Regions from separate parts of the Homo sapiens genome. Here region 1 is linked to region 2. A link means that fine-mapping ties the variant in region 2 to the expression of a gene that starts in the linked region. Tissue or cell type: whole blood. Region 2 holds a variant in brackets; the other region holds the start of a gene. All regions are shown on one strand. Distances are from middle to middle.

The links. PIP is the estimated chance that this variant, and not a neighbour inherited with it, causes the effect.
Region 1: ALB starts here. The variant in region 2 is fine-mapped to the expression of ALB in whole blood (TOPMed, PIP 0.96).

What each region holds. Positions count from the first base shown.
Region 1 is chr4:73,399,475-73,407,585 of GRCh38, forward strand. It overlaps ALB (albumin), which reads left to right and starts at 4,813. Exons shown (of 15, transcript NM_000477.7): 1 at 4,813-4,932; 2 at 5,642-5,699; 3 at 7,155-7,287. The coding sequence starts at 4,854. RefSeq lists enhancers at 2,948-3,168, 4,441-4,480 and promoters at 3,707-4,868, 4,448-4,853.
Region 2 is chr4:73,255,788-73,263,898 of GRCh38, forward strand. ANKRD17 (ankyrin repeat domain 17) reads right to left here and starts at 3,011. Exons shown (of 34, transcript NM_032217.5): 1 at 2,489-3,011. The coding sequence starts at 2,881. It overlaps ANKRD17-DT (ANKRD17 divergent transcript), which reads left to right and starts at 3,379. Exons shown (of 5, transcript NR_187399.1): 1 at 3,379-3,621. RefSeq lists enhancers at 163-663, 3,064-3,660, 3,263-3,532 and a silencer at 2,703-3,102. The variant C/G (reference allele first, on the strand shown) is at 3,526.

The DNA of each region.
Region 1 (8,111 bases), 140 kb after region 2:
ATTGATGTCAGCGCACACATACCTTCTTGGAAAACTCCTGAGAATTTCAAGGCTTAAATTCCAAGCTTCAGCTGGGTTACGGGTTGAGAAAGTTTTAGCTAAGAACTGGCACTAAAAGATTACAAAACATCTCGCAAAGCTTAAAGCTATAGAAGACATCAAGAAGAAAAAATACCTTTTAATAAAAACATTCTAAACTCTATCCACTAAAATTTCAACATGAGACTATTTTAGCTATACAATCTTAGTTGTTTTATAGAAGATTGATAAAGTTCAATTTTATAACTTTAAACTTAAGTAACAAGTTTCTTGAATTTCATGTTTAAAATATAGAATATGAATAGATTCAAAGTGCATTCATTTCTGTTTAATTTCCATCTGTGGCTATCCTTATGAGACAGGATTAGTATTAATTTCAATTTATATGTTTATAGATTCTATTAGTTGTTAATTTATTAAGAATGGATAAACATGGATTGCAGACATTAACTATATTTTTCTTGCACTTGAAAAACTTGATAAAAAAATATGAGAAAGTCTCATTAATATAGTTTAAATAAGTTTAAATGAACTTTTTATTCTTTAAAAATATTAAGCTGAACTAGCTAGAGCGTAATACTTGAGGAGCAATTGTGAGGCTTAGGAATGAACAAGCTCTCAAACTTGAATCCTAATTGCCTAACTTGATATATTCTTTCCTACCACTCAGGTCCTTTTCTCATTTGATAAGGCTGTCACATTGAAAACATGGAATTGCAGAATGTTCAAGGTAGAAGGATCGTTAAAGATAATTTAGTCCAACTTGACCCATATGGCATAGAGATATATGCAGATCTGCATGTCCAGTTCTGCAGCTAGAAACTGACACTGAGCTGAATTAAACCACACGGAGAAGAACTGAGAAATTTAAAGTAAAAGGTTAGGAAATTCGAATGTATATATATTCCAGAGGCCCAGTGTAACATGAAGAAAGTCAAGGAGAGGGACTCTTTCATCATGGAAGATCTGGGGGCAGAGGGACTTAAAAGGTGGGACAAGCCAAAGATGGTGACCTAGGGTGGTTTTTATGATATAACCTTTTTTCTCCTCATTCCCTATGAAATCTTCAGCCAATTCCATATTTCTCACTAATTCAAGTGAATATCTGGGGGGATGGCTTATGGAGGGAAATAAGGGAGCAATTGTTTGGATTATATTCCAATTTTTTATTTGCATTAGAATACCTATATGTTTATACATTTTTATTTGCATTAGAAATACTTATATAAGTTTATACACTTTCATTCTAACTTTTTTTGAGGGAAATGTATCTCCATAAGTGAATAAGAAGTTAAATTACTGATTATGTTTCAATTGGTTAGTTTGATGCTTAACAGTCTTTCACTTTTCCACTCTTGCATATTTTGTAGAGAGTAATACAAGCTCTTCATGATAGGAAGGATCTGCATATGTTTATTTTATAGTAGAAAAATGGTAAGATTTTCCTGTCCCCAATTTTCTCTCCAAACAAATCCAAATTTCTTGTATTTTGGAATGACTCTGGGTAAAGTGGTTGTTTATAGAAAGTCTCTTATAAAATATTGAGGATATTATTAGATATTATTACATTTCCATGAATATGTTTCCCTTTATCTTTAAGAGAAGAAGAGTCAGAAATATAACCTATCAGAGTGGGAGATGGCATAAAAGCTGGACTAAATGGATTGCTAGATGGAGGGCAAACCTGGTGTGAATGACTCAGTGAGAAGCTTCGGGAGTCCTGAGGGTAGCAGAAGGGTGCGGATTTAAAGTTACTGTTAGAGTGGCTGGAAAATGGGAGACCGGTTCAGAGACATTTTATCTACTTAAAAACTGTGCCTTTTGTATCACGTCAAAGTGAATGCAAAACAAAGAACAAAAGGGTTAAAGGCTCAGGTTTAAATCCCAGGTATATGTACATTTCAATTGAGGTATTTTTTTTTTCTTTTCTAAATGATCAGTACACTTATTCTTTCTAAAGAAAATACTTTTCTTAACTACTCTCTATTTTTAAACTTCTCCCACAAAGATGAGAAAACATTTAAAAATCATTGGGGCTATTTTTCTGTTTACCGAGTAAAGAGAATCTCTAAACCATATTTATAACTCTTACTCTAAATATTTGCATTTACCCTCATGCCAGAGCCCGTTGATGACTGACTAAACAGAGTTTCAAAGTTTGAAGAACAGGAAATTTAGAAATGACTAACAATTATGTAGGTTTATTTCTCTCAGTATAGAATGTTCATATAGAATTAATGCCAGAGGTTTTCAGAGAAAAATGCAGAAATTTTTACTTTGCAAATCCAGAAGATGCAATTGTTCAAGTATTTCTTAAGAAACATTAATTTTAAGTATGCAGATATCATTGAGAATTAAATATTTTAATTTCTAAACTATTAATCTTTTAGTAGGATGCACATATGCAAAATGCCTCATTAGTACTGTAAGAAAAGATTCTTGGCCGGGCGCGGTGGCTCATGACTGTAATCCCAGCACTTTGGGAGGCCGAGGTGGGCGGATGACGAGGTCAGGAGATCGAGACCACCCTGGCACACGGTGAAACCCCGTCTCTACTAAAGATACAAAAAATTAGCCGGGCGTGATGGCGGGCGCCTGTAGTCCCAGCTACTCGGGAGGCTGAGGCAGAAGAATGGCGTGAACTCGGGAGGCGGAGCTTGCAAGTGAGCCGAGATAGTGCCACTGCACTCCAGTCTGGGCGAAAGAGCGAGACTCCATCTCAAAAAAAAAAAAAAAAAAAGAAAAGATTCTTTTAGGTTTCATCAATTTTGTTTTAAAGCTAGGGCTCTTCATTAGATATAGGAAAATCAATTCAAAGTTTCTATTCAGTCATGATGAATTTGAGATTTTTTTAGGTTTCTTTGTATTTAACAATATATTACATTATAATGTTGTGGTGAAAACTAAATGGACTAATATTATTCTTTTCATTTGTTAAATGAAAAAGTATGCACAAAGTATATGTGAGAGTGACAAAGGCCTGAATTTGTCAATTAGTAACAATTGTATTCAACAGTAAGGATTTTATGTTTGGGTAGGCCTTTCCCAGGGACTTCTACAAGGAAAAAGCTAGAGTTGGTTACTGACTTCTAATAAATAATGCCTACAATTTCTAGGAAGTTAAAAGTTGACATAATTTATCCAAGAAAGAATTATTTTCTTAACTTAGAATAGTTTCTTTTTTCTTTTCAGATGTAGGTTTTTCTGGCTTTAGAAAAAATGCTTGTTTTTCTTCAATGGAAAATAGGCACACTTGTTTTATGTCTGTTCATCTGTAGTCAGAAAGACAAGTCTGGTATTTCCTTTCAGGACTCCCTTGAGTCATTAAAAAAAATCTTCCTATCTATCTATGTATCTATCATCCATCTAGCTTTGATTTTTTCCTCTTCTGTGCTTTATTAGTTAATTAGTACCCATTTCTGAAGAAGAAATAACATAAGATTATAGAAAATAATTTCTTTCATTGTAAGACTGAATAGAAAAAATTTTCTTTCATTATAAGACTGAGTAGAAAAAATAATACTTTGTTAGTCTCTGTGCCTCTATGTGCCATGAGGAAATTTGACTACTGGTTTTGACTGACTGAGTTATTTAATTAAGTAAAATAACTGGCTTAGTACTAATTATTGTTCTGTAGTATCAGAGAAAGTTGTTCTTCCTACTGGTTGAGCTCAGTAGTTCTTCATATTCTGAGCAAAAGGGCAGAGGTAGGATAGCTTTTCTGAGGTAGAGATAAGAACCTTGGGTAGGGAAGGAAGATTTATGAAATATTTAAAAAATTATTCTTCCTTCGCTTTGTTTTTAGACATAATGTTAAATTTATTTTGAAATTTAAAGCAACATAAAAGAACATGTGATTTTTCTACTTATTGAAAGAGAGAAAGGAAAAAAATATGAAACAGGGATGGAAAGAATCCTATGCCTGGTGAAGGTCAAGGGTTCTCATAACCTACAGAGAATTTGGGGTCAGCCTGTCCTATTGTATATTATGGCAAAGATAATCATCATCTCATTTGGGTCCATTTTCCTCTCCATCTCTGCTTAACTGAAGATCCCATGAGATATACTCACACTGAATCTAAATAGCCTATCTCAGGGCTTGAATCACATGTGGGCCACAGCAGGAATGGGAACATGGAATTTCTAAGTCCTATCTTACTTGTTATTGTTGCTATGTCTTTTTCTTAGTTTGCATCTGAGGCAACATCAGCTTTTTCAGACAGAATGGCTTTGGAATAGTAAAAAAGACACAGAAGCCCTAAAATATGTATGTATGTATATGTGTGTGTGCATGCGTGAGTACTTGTGTGTAAATTTTTCATTATCTATAGGTAAAAGCACACTTGGAATTAGCAATAGATGCAATTTGGGACTTAACTCTTTCAGTATGTCTTATTTCTAAGCAAAGTATTTAGTTTGGTTAGTAATTACTAAACACTGAGAACTAAATTGCAAACACCAAGAACTAAAATGTTCAAGTGGGAAATTACAGTTAAATACCATGGTAATGAATAAAAGGTACAAATCGTTTAAACTCTTATGTAAAATTTGATAAGATGTTTTACACAACTTTAATACATTGACAAGGTCTTGTGGAGAAAACAGTTCCAGATGGTAAATATACACAAGGGATTTAGTCAAACAATTTTTTGGCAAGAATATTATGAATTTTGTAATCGGTTGGCAGCCAATGAAATACAAAGATGAGTCTAGTTAATAATCTACAATTATTGGTTAAAGAAGTATATTAGTGCTAATTTCCCTCCGTTTGTCCTAGCTTTTCTCTTCTGTCAACCCCACACGCCTTTGGCACAATGAAGTGGGTAACCTTTATTTCCCTTCTTTTTCTCTTTAGCTCGGCTTATTCCAGGGGTGTGTTTCGTCGAGATGCACGTAAGAAATCCATTTTTCTATTGTTCAACTTTTATTCTATTTTCCCAGTAAAATAAAGTTTTAGTAAACTCTGCATCTTTAAAGAATTATTTTGGCATTTATTTCTAAAATGGCATAGTATTTTGTATTTGTGAAGTCTTACAAGGTTATCTTATTAATAAAATTCAAACATCCTAGGTAAAAAAAAAAAAAGGTCAGAATTGTTTAGTGACTGTAATTTTCTTTTGCGCACTAAGGAAAGTGCAAAGTAACTTAGAGTGACTGAAACTTCACAGAATAGGGTTGAAGATTGAATTCATAACTATCCCAAAGACCTATCCATTGCACTATGCTTTATTTAAAAACCACAAAACCTGTGCTGTTGATCTCATAAATAGAACTTGTATTTATATTTATTTTCATTTTAGTCTGTCTTCTTGGTTGCTGTTGATAGACACTAAAAGAGTATTAGATATTATCTAAGTTTGAATATAAGGCTATAAATATTTAATAATTTTTAAAATAGTATTCTTGGTAATTGAATTATTCTTCTGTTTAAAGGCAGAAGAAATAATTGAACATCATCCTGAGTTTTTCTGTAGGAATCAGAGCCCAATATTTTGAAACAAATGCATAATCTAAGTCAAATGGAAAGAAATATAAAAAGTAACATTATTACTTCTTGTTTTCTTCAGTATTTAACAATCCTTTTTTTTCTTCCCTTGCCCAGACAAGAGTGAGGTTGCTCATCGGTTTAAAGATTTGGGAGAAGAAAATTTCAAAGCCTTGTAAGTTAAAATATTGATGAATCAAATTTAATGTTTCTAATAGTGTTGTTTATTATTCTAAAGTGCTTATATTTCCTTGTCATCAGGGTTCAGATTCTAAAACAGTGCTGCCTCGTAGAGTTTTCTGCGTTGAGGAAGATATTCTGTATCTGGGCTATCCAATAAGGTAGTCACTGGTCACATGGCTATTGAGTACTTCAAATATGACAAGTGCAACTGAGAAACAAAAACTTAAATTGTATTTAATTGTAGTTAATTTGAATGTATATAGTCACATGTGGCTAATGGCTACTGTATTGGACAGTACAGCTCTGGAACTTGCTTGGTGGAAAGGACTTTAATATAGGTTTCCTTTGGTGGCTTACCCACTAAATCTTCTTTACATAGCAAGCATTCCTGTGCTTAGTTGGGAATATTTAATTTTTTTTTTTTTTTAAGACAGGGTCTCGCTCTGTCGCCCAGGCTGGAGTGCAGTGGCGCAATCTCGGCTCACTGCAAACTCCGCCTCCCGGGTTCACGCCATTCTCCTGCCTCAGCCTCCCGAGTAGCTGGGACTACAGGCGCCCGCCATCACGCCCGGCTAATCTTTTGTATTTTTAGTAGAGATGGGGTTTCACCGTGTGCCAGGATGGTCTCAATCTCCTGACATCGTGATCTGCCCACCTCGGCCTCCCAAAGTGCTGGGATTACAGGAGTGAGCCACCGCGCCCGGCCTATTTAAATGTTTTTTAATCTAGTAAAAAATGAGAAAATTGTTTTTTTAAAAGTCTACCTAATCCTACAGGCTAATTAAAGACGTGTGTGGGGATCAGGTGCGGTGGTTCACACCTGTAATCCCAGCACTTTGGAAGGCTGATGCAGGAGGATTGCTTGAGCCCAGGAGTTCAAGACCAGCCTGGGCAAGTCTCTTTAAAAAAAACAAAACAAACAAACAAAAAAATTAGGCATGGTGGCACATGCCTGTAGTCCTAGCTACTTAGGAGGCTGACGTAGGAGGATCGTTTGGACCTGAGAGGTCAAGGCTACAGTGAGCCATGATTGTGCCACTGCACTCCAGCCTGGGTGACAGAGTGAGACTCTGTCTCAAAAAAGAAAAAGGAAATCTGTGGGGTTTGTTTTAGTTTTAAGTAATTCTAAGGACTTTAAAAATGCCTAGTCTTGACAATTAGATCTATTTGGCATACAATTTGCTTGCTTAATCTATGTGTGTGCATAGATCTACTGACACACGCATACATATAAACATTAGGGAACTACCATTCTCTTTGCGTAGGAAGCCACATATGCCTATCTAGGCCTCAGATCATACCTGATATGAATAGGCTTTCTGGATAATGGTGAAGAAGATGTATAAAAGATAGAACCTATACCCATACATGATTTGTTCTCTAGCGTAGCAACCTGTTACATATTAAAGTTTTATTATACTACATTTTTCTACATCCTTTGTTTCAGGGTGTTGATTGCCTTTGCTCAGTATCTTCAGCAGTGTCCATTTGAAGATCATGTAAAATTAGTGAATGAAGTAACTGAATTTGCAAAAACATGTGTTGCTGATGAGTCAGCTGAAAATTGTGACAAATCACTTGTAAGTACATTCTAATTGTGGAGATTCTTTCTTCTGTTTGAAGTAATCCCAAGCATTTCAAAGGAATTTTTTTTAAGTTTTCTCAATTATTATTAAGTGTCCTGATTTGTAAGAAACACTAAAAAGTTGCTCATAGACTGATAAGCCATTGTTTCTTTTGTGATAGAGATGCTTTAGCTATGTCCACAGTTTTAAAATCATTTCTTTATTGAGACCAAACACAACAGTCATGGTGTATTTAAATGGCAATTTGTCATTTATAAACACCTCTTTTTAAAATTTGAGGTTTGGTTTCTTTTTGTAGAGGCTAATAGGGATATGATAGCATGTATTTATTTATTTATTTATCTTATTTTATTATAGTAAGAACCCTTAACATGAGATCTACCCTGTTATATTTTTAAGTGTACAATCCATTATTGTTAACTACGGGTACACTGTTGTATAGCTTACTCATCTTGCTGTATTAAAACTTTGTGCCCATTGATTAGTAACCCCTCGTTTCGTCCTCCCCCAGCCACTGGCAACCAGCATTATACTCTTTGATTCTATGAGTTTGACTACTTTAGCTACCTTATATAAGTGGTATTATGTACTGTTTATCTTTTTATGACTGACTTATTTCCCTTAGCATAGTGCATTCAAAGTCCAACCATGTTGTTGCCTATTGCAGAATTTCCTTCTTTTCAAGGCTGAATAATATTCCAGTGCATGTGTGTACCACATTTTCTTTATCCATTAATTTGTTGATTGATAGACATTTAGGTTGGTTTTCTACATCTTGACTATCATGAATAGTGTTGCAATGAACACAGGAGAGCTAC
Region 2 (8,111 bases):
ATCTCAGCTCACTGCAACCTCCACCTCCCGGGTTCAAGCAATTCTCCTGCCTCAGCCTCCCAAGTAGCTGAGATTACAGGCATCTGCCACCACACTCGGCTAATTTTTTTGTATTTTTAGTAGAGATGGGGTTTCACCATGTTGGCCAGGCTGGTCTCAAACTCCTGACCTCAGGTGATCCGCCCGCCTCGGTCTCCCAAAGTGCTGGGATTACAGGCGTGAGCTACCACGCCCGGCCAATGGGCACACTTTCTTACACGTATTTCTCCTGACTCATCTTCATAAATGACAAACCCATTGTTTAACACCATGTAAAAGACAGGATAAGGTATGTTAAAAACATAGAAATACTACCATAGTTGGTGAAAGTCAACATAACCATTCCTATATTACAAAAGGAAAACAAACCTGACCCACAAAATAAACATACCTACAAACTTACAGCCATTCTTCATGATTTAAGGAATTACTAAAAGTTCTGCTTATTAGGCCGCATTCCAATGGACAAAACTACCTAGGTATGTTAAGTTTGCAGCAGAATATCCCAGTAAGTACTGCATTCAACTATCATAACCTTGCTCTAAACCAGAGCTTAATAGTTTCACGAGAATTTAAAATTTTAAGTAATGGTATTTTGCCTATAGCTGCATGATTGTGTTACCTTGCTATTCAGTAACTATTTTTCTGAATGATATCAGGAGGGTGATAAAAGGAAATAAATTATTATTAAAAAGTGTACAGGTCTGAGACATTAGAAAACTTTGATTTGTACTTTTGCTACTACCCACCACAACCACTTTCCTCTAAACCTTGTTTTCCTCCTTTTTAAAATAAAGGGCTGAATTACCTGTAAAATGTTTCTCACCTTTGAGAAGAATCATACAATTGAATGATTCTAAGTACCATAACAAATTTTATTAGGGATAAGGACCCCATTACATCTTTCTCTTCCTTGTTTCAAATGCCGCCAGAGCAACACACTATCCTAAACATCCAAGTAGGCCAATATAAGTCTATCAATACAAACCTATTCTCAGAATCCAACAGGCTAAAAGGGAATAAAAACAAGGACTGGCATATTTTTGTCATACATACTTCAGCACTTAATATCTCTACCTATACAACTTCATCCAGTCTGAGATAAAAGAGAATCTGGTCTTCTACAAATAGACATGTGTCAAATCCTTTAAAAGGTACTTCTCTATTTCAACAGAGACCAGGATTCAATAATTCCAATTTTCGGAAAACCAGACTTGCATCAAAATAAGTTCCATGTTTGTGGAAGAGAATAAATAGTAAGTGGTACTTTTAGATGAATCACTTGGTCTCCTCTTAGAACTAAGTTTAAAATCAGCCTTTAAAGCTGTTTTCCCTCTGCTGATAAAGATTTCCCTCTCCAAATAAAGATTTTTCTAGATTCTATTTCAGGAAGGAGACAAGAGAGTGGTAAAACAGCTAATAACTAGTAAAGCTAACTCTCAGTTGGTTGTCAGTATGGTATGTTTTACTGAGCCTTTGGGTTGTAAGGGCTTCTGTGAGGAATAAGGTCCTGCAACGCCGCCTGTCTGTGGACCCAGGAAAAATTATAAAGTTATTATGAAACCAGATCACTAGGACAAACCGAGAGGCCTTCCTATTCCAACTCACCACAACCAGGCCTGGCTCCAAAGCCTACCCTTTGGCTGTCCCATATTACGGGACAACAGGTCCTAGCTTAATTCTAACTCACTAAGGAAACATTCGAAGGCATGTATGTATGTACGTGTAAGGATCAAATATATTTTTCATCCACTTACAAATGTATATGGTCATTTGTAATTATTTAAAGTTACTGATAAATTTATACAAATACAGCATCAGTTCATCGAAAATCCCTGGGAGATCGAGGAAATGAAGTTACTTCAGCAGCCAGGATAGTTACGAAAAACCCTGCAGAACAGTATGGAAAAGTACAGCTTCTCACGTGTCCCTCACATACACAAACACTTAGCTCTGAGTCCATTACAACCTTACGTCCCCCCTCAAACTGCTCCCCTCCACCTCACAACTGGGAGAAGTTGATCAACCTCCTAGTTGGTCCCCAAGAGACTCATTTACCCATTATTTTACTCCTCCCGCTTTGATCCCGATCCCGCCTCAGACTAAGGTGGCCCTACTGGCCCCAGGCAGACCACCCCCCCACCCCCCGGCGTGCAAACAGGGAATCTAACCAATTCCCTCCATCCTTAACCAAGTGAGCCATCCCATGATAACAGGCTGTTCACCAACTCTGTGAACTCCGTGGTCCTCCCACCCCCACGTGTCAGCTACCCTCCCCCACATTCCCACACCTCACGATTTAGGCCGAGGGAAGAAAGGGGGCAGTCGAAAGCCTGGCCCCTAAGAGATCAACCCACTGGAATCTGTCCCACTCCAAATCCCCTCCCACCTTCGGCCCCTATCCCTTACAGTCCCTTCCTCCCTCCTTCCTTTGAAACCAGGCCCTTGCCTCAGAAACCTCCTCTTCCTCGTCGTCGTCGTCCTCTTCTTCCTCGCTGTTGTTACTGCTGGTGCCGCCGCCGCCACCTCCGCCTCCACCGCCGCCTCCACCGCCGCCGCTGTTGTCGCTGTCGCTGCTGCTTTCGCTGCTGCTGGGGGGTCGGCAAGTCCGGTTACGCTTGGCCTTGTGGTGCTGCTGCTGCGGCGGCTTCTTCTTCAGGAGCAGGTCGCAGACTCGCACCATCCCACGAGGAGACGAGGCCGAGCGAGCTCTGCTGCTGCCGCCAACGCCGCCGCCGACCTCCGCCGCCGCGGGGGGGCCCGCCACAGCCGCCACCGCCGGGGGGCTCCCTTCTCCTTCTGCAGCCGTCGCCGCCGCCACCGGAACCGTCGCCTTCTCCATCCCCAGGGAAAGAGGGAGGGCGCGGACGGGGGAGGGGCGTGGGGCTACGCTCTACCGCGACTTCGGCCGCACTGGGGCCGACACAGCAATCGGTGCCGCCTCCGCCGCCACCGCCTCGGTCACCTCTACTGCCGCCGCCGCCGCCGCCGCTCCGCCAGCTCTCACCTCGTCTCGCGATACTAAGGGCGGGGAGCCTGACGATGGGAGGGAGGGAGGGAGGGAGAGGGAGGGAGCAAGGGAAGGAGGGTGAGGCGTAACAGGGAGACCGGGTGTCGGGAGAACCAGAGGAGAGGAGACTGGAAAGAAGCGGGGAAGTGTGCCTGGGGCAGCTTCCGAAGGGGAACGGCGGGGACAGATGAGGGGGGCGCGATTGCAACCAGAGCGCCCGCGAGCTCCCGGATTTCTTCTCTTTCCTCGCTATTTCCCGCACACACAGCCCTGCAGCCCTCCCTTCTTCCTTCCTGGCTTGTGATTAGAACGCAGCCGCAGGCGGAAGTGCAGTGACGCCATCAGCCGTCGCCTGAGCCGTGGCGCGCGGGTGGCCGAAAGGCGAAAGTGAGATTTCAAGGGCCGGGTCTGGGGCCCCGCGGGCGCGCAGTGCTGCGGCGTGTGGGGAGTACGGGGAGGCTGGAGAGGAGCCGGCC[C/G]CGGGCAGTGTGAGGTGCGGAAGCGCGGTCCAGACACTTTGCTGACGGGAGGCCGGTCCGCCAGATCCGGGAGGTGGGGCCTCGTTCTGGACTGCTGTACGTAGTTTTATTCCTGGTCATTTTTTTCCACCGCCAAATCGAGAGATAGAGCTTTGGATCATGAGAGATGGCGTCGTGTTGGGAAAAGAGCCTTCTTTACCTGAGTTTAAGCTCGGCTCATAGACATCCTCTACCTGAGTTTACACGTGTGTAATATGAAGGCAGTCGATTAGGAGATGTCTAAGATCATTACTTACACCTCAAGTTTCCAAGGGGAGGAAGACACGGGAAGGATGCGTGGTCTGTGCCAGACTTTGTAGACGATTCACTGAATGACCCTGATTTAGCTCTTCCGGCCCTCTTCGATTCAGCTTGGAAGCAAGCATAAATAGTGATTGTTGTCTGTATACTTCTCTCGGAAGGAATGCTGTTATGGGAGTTGTGGGTTCATTTTTAGGTGTCTGAAGAAGTTTCAGGACTTTTGAAATGATAGTGGAGCCCATTGAACTCAGAATTATCCCTTTCTGGTCTAGTAGGAGTATAGTGGCATACGGAAAATGAAGCAAACATCAAAGACAGATGTACTGGCACAAGATTAAAAGTATGTCTCAGCTGACATAGTTGCCATTTTAAGACTGCTTAGTTTAGCTGAATATGCCTGGATTTTTTTTTTTTTTAGCATTTTTTTTCTTTTTAGCATTGGCATACCATATGAAATGTGGGCAGTTGCCAGTACTCTACAGAGTACCAAGGCAGAATTGGCAATGACTAAATCAATTCATTCAAACAAAAATTCATCATGTGCCTACTGTGCGCATAATTTGTGGAATCAAAGTCTCTTGTTTCCAGGGGCTTTACAGTGTAATAAGTGCTATAGTAAATATATATACGGAGTGGTAACCATCTGCCTATTCCTCTCCTACAGTCGTTGCTGAGTTCCAGTGTAGAACAGAGCACTGCATTGTGTATCTCACCACTACTGATTTAGATTTTATAATTTCAGCTGCATCCCTCCCTCCTACTTTGTATATTCTTCAGCATCTTTTTCTCCCTTTCCACTTGAATACTTTTCGCAATCTTTAAATCCCAGCCCATTTTATTATATGACTTTTAACTTAGACTTCACAATTTTCCAAGTGCTAGAAATTTCCTGAGATTGCCTTTTCTCCAGTATCAACGAATGAGAGACTCCCTGTTCATATATGAGATAAACTCTTCATACATATTCTAGTTCCAATACCCCTCTTTCTCATGCATTTATTATCTTTTCTGTTGTCAACCTTCTACAAATTCTGGTTCCTTAGCTAATTCTTCTGTAGCTTTCAATTATTTCCTTCACAAGCAAACTTTCTTTCTTTAAAAAGTATTCTATACTCAGGAGGCTGAAGCAGGAGAATCGCTTGAACCTGCGAGGCGGAGTTTGCAGTGAGCTGAGATCCTGCTACTGCACTCTAGCTTGGGCGACAGAGCGAGACTCCATCTCAAAAAAAAAGTGTCTACAATCAGTGTCTTTTTTGTTTTCTGAAATTGACTTGTCAGCCCTCTGCAGTCTAGTCTCTGTGTCTATCGTGCTGTGCTACCAAAAATGCTCTCTTTAAAGTAATCTCATTGTTTGGAAGAAAATGAGTTTTTTGTTCTTTAATATAATAGTGAAATGATGATCCTGTTTCACTAGTAGGATAAGGTTCAAAACTATTAAAATGGACAAGGCATGTAAAGTCACTTTCTTTTATTTTTATCTTTTTTTCCCCCCGTTAGAACCTCTGGCAGGGACTGACTAGCCCATGAAACTTATTTCTTCTTCCCGGGCACACAGCTAAACTAAATTTCACAGCTTTCCTTGTAGTTGGTTATAGTCATGTGATGAACTTCTTTTTTTGAGACAGAGTTTAGCTCTTGTTGCTCAGGCTGGAATGCAATGGCACAATCTCAGCTCACCGCAACCTCCGCCTCCCGTGTTCAAGCGATTCTCCTGCCTCAGCCTCCCAAGTAGCTGGGATTACAGGCATGTGCCATCACACCCGGCTAATTTTGTATTTTTAGTAGAGACACGGTTTCTCCATGTTGGTCAGGCTGGTCTCGAACTCCCGACCTCAGGTGATTCCCCCACCTCGGCTTTCAAAGTGCTGGGATTACGGGCGTGAGCCACCGAGCCTGGCCGTGATTAACTTCTAGCCAATTAAATATGAATGGAAATGATGTGCTCATTTTTAGGGTTAATGAAGTCCTCCTATTCTCCCTTACTCTTTCTTCGTCAACTTGATGCCTTTGAGCATGGTGACCTTCAAAACTATGTATTGGAGATGCCAAAGCCAGAAAAGAGAAGAATGAGTGGCTGAAACAGTACTTGGAAGACAGCCACCCCAATTAGAAACACCCCTTTTTGCACTTACTGTAAGAGAAAAAATTGAGATTTGAGAATTTATATGTATAGGAGCTAGAATGACCATAGCTAGTCCAGAAATTGGTACAAGAAGTGGAGTACTGCTAAAACAATAACCTAAAATATGTTACATCAGCTTATTTATGATGCAGCAGGTGGTAGAGAATGTGATTTGGAGGCTAGAAAAAGGAGGCCCATGTTTGCAGTGGCAAAGTAATTAGTAAAACTGTCACCTGAAATAATTCAAAATCAGATCACCTATCTGTTTAGATTAGCTCCAGAGGAAATGATTGAAAAGAGCAAAAGTAATACTGTGTTGAATTTTACATTTTACTTTTAGTAAGGTTTTACTAAAGAGAGAAACTCAGGAAATACTTCACAGAAGTGAGAGTGTACAGGAATATTTCTCAGGAAGGGTTGGAAAAGTTGACTTTTATAAGACTTCTAATAAAAAAAAAAAAAAAACTAGAAGAGGTCTTGAGTATAGTTACCCTTGAGATTAAGTCCTGCAACAAAGATCAGGAAAAGGGTTTGGTCTTTCCATTCAAAGTCATTATTTTAGATGGCTTCAAGATAGCTACGATAAAGGTCTAAAGGAACTGGCATAGGAGCAAGGCAGCAAAGCAGTAAATTAGGCTTGATAATTATGTAAGAAAGAACTTTGGGTGTAGTTACCAGAAGCAAATCAATCAGAAGACTACATTTTTAGAGGAATTTTATTAATCATACTAAATCTGGCTCAAATATCATTGTTCGGGTGTTAAAACAGAGGGTAACTGTCCAACCCCAAGCTTGCATAAGTAGAAAAATAGAGCATAAAACCTTAACAGCTCCCCAGTACCCACACAGGATGTGGCCATGGAGAATGATGGACAAAAAAAGAACATTTCAGAAGCTCGTATAAGGAGCTGTACTAAAGACTGGACAGGGAGTTTCTCCTGAAGACTAGAATTGGAGTTTCATCAGAACTTTCTTCAGTTTCAAGGAGATGGGCCGCAAAATGTTTATGCAGTATTTCATCATTATTATACATGAATAGTATTGCTCAGTATCACATTTTTTTTCTGAATGAGAGAATGTATTATAGTTATCTGTCCCTGAGTTACCACTATATATTGGGTTTGCAGGGATGGGGGTGACAATAAAGATAATTTGTCTTTTTAGTTCTTAGGTCACATCTGTACCTAATGAAGAGAACTGCACATTTTCTGAAAATCCTAGACTTTGAGCCTGTTCCAGTAACTGGTTAAAACTTTAGATTGTCTCCTTTGGGACAGGGTATGTTCTGTGTGTGGAAAGACAGGTAAAATACATGTTTAGTGATCAGAATAGTAGATTCTTGCAAATGCTAAATTCTTCTGGCCACACAGCTATATTTCCATGCCTCTCTTGCAATTAGGTATATGGGTTAGGTGTGCTGATTAGGTTCTAACCAGTGGAATGTGAGAAGTGATGCACTCCTATTCCAGCTCTGGCCTATGGAAACATCACATGAGCAATCCAATATATCCCACTCCCCATCAACTTGAGGCAGATGAGCAAATTTGCACTGGAAACTATGTGTTAAAGATGGCAAAGCCGCAAGATAGGACTCCTGGTTTCCTGAATCTTCACTTGGAGGATACTTGCTTCCCAATTAGAGACACTTGTGCTAGAGTTTCCTGACTCTTCACTGGGAGGATACTTGCTTGCCAATTAGGGACACTTGTGCTACAGCTCATACGCATTCTTTTGTGTTAGGCCACTGAGATTTCAGAGCGTGCCCTAATAAAGACCTGTCCCTCTTTCTCCAGATGCAATCGTTCATTACCTAATTCTAATTTTTATACCACAGGAGTAGGCCCACAAATCAGGCTAGCCAAAGTATCCTATCATTCAGCCATAGTGATTAGTTCAGGAATGGGCAGATTAACAAAACTGAAGTTAATCAGAGATAGTCTTATCATTTGGGCTAGCACTATCAAGAAAAAGACACCTGCTTCTGGAATAAGCAAAAAAAAAAAAAAAAAAAAACACAAGCTACATCTGGCCTTTGGTCATCATGTCGAGTGAACCTGCCTAAGAATGAAATCTTACAGGGAAACAGAGGCAGTCTCAATGATACTGCAGAAGGGGAAGATATCCCATGAATTGAGAAATATTTCCTGGGTTTCTACTCGATTGA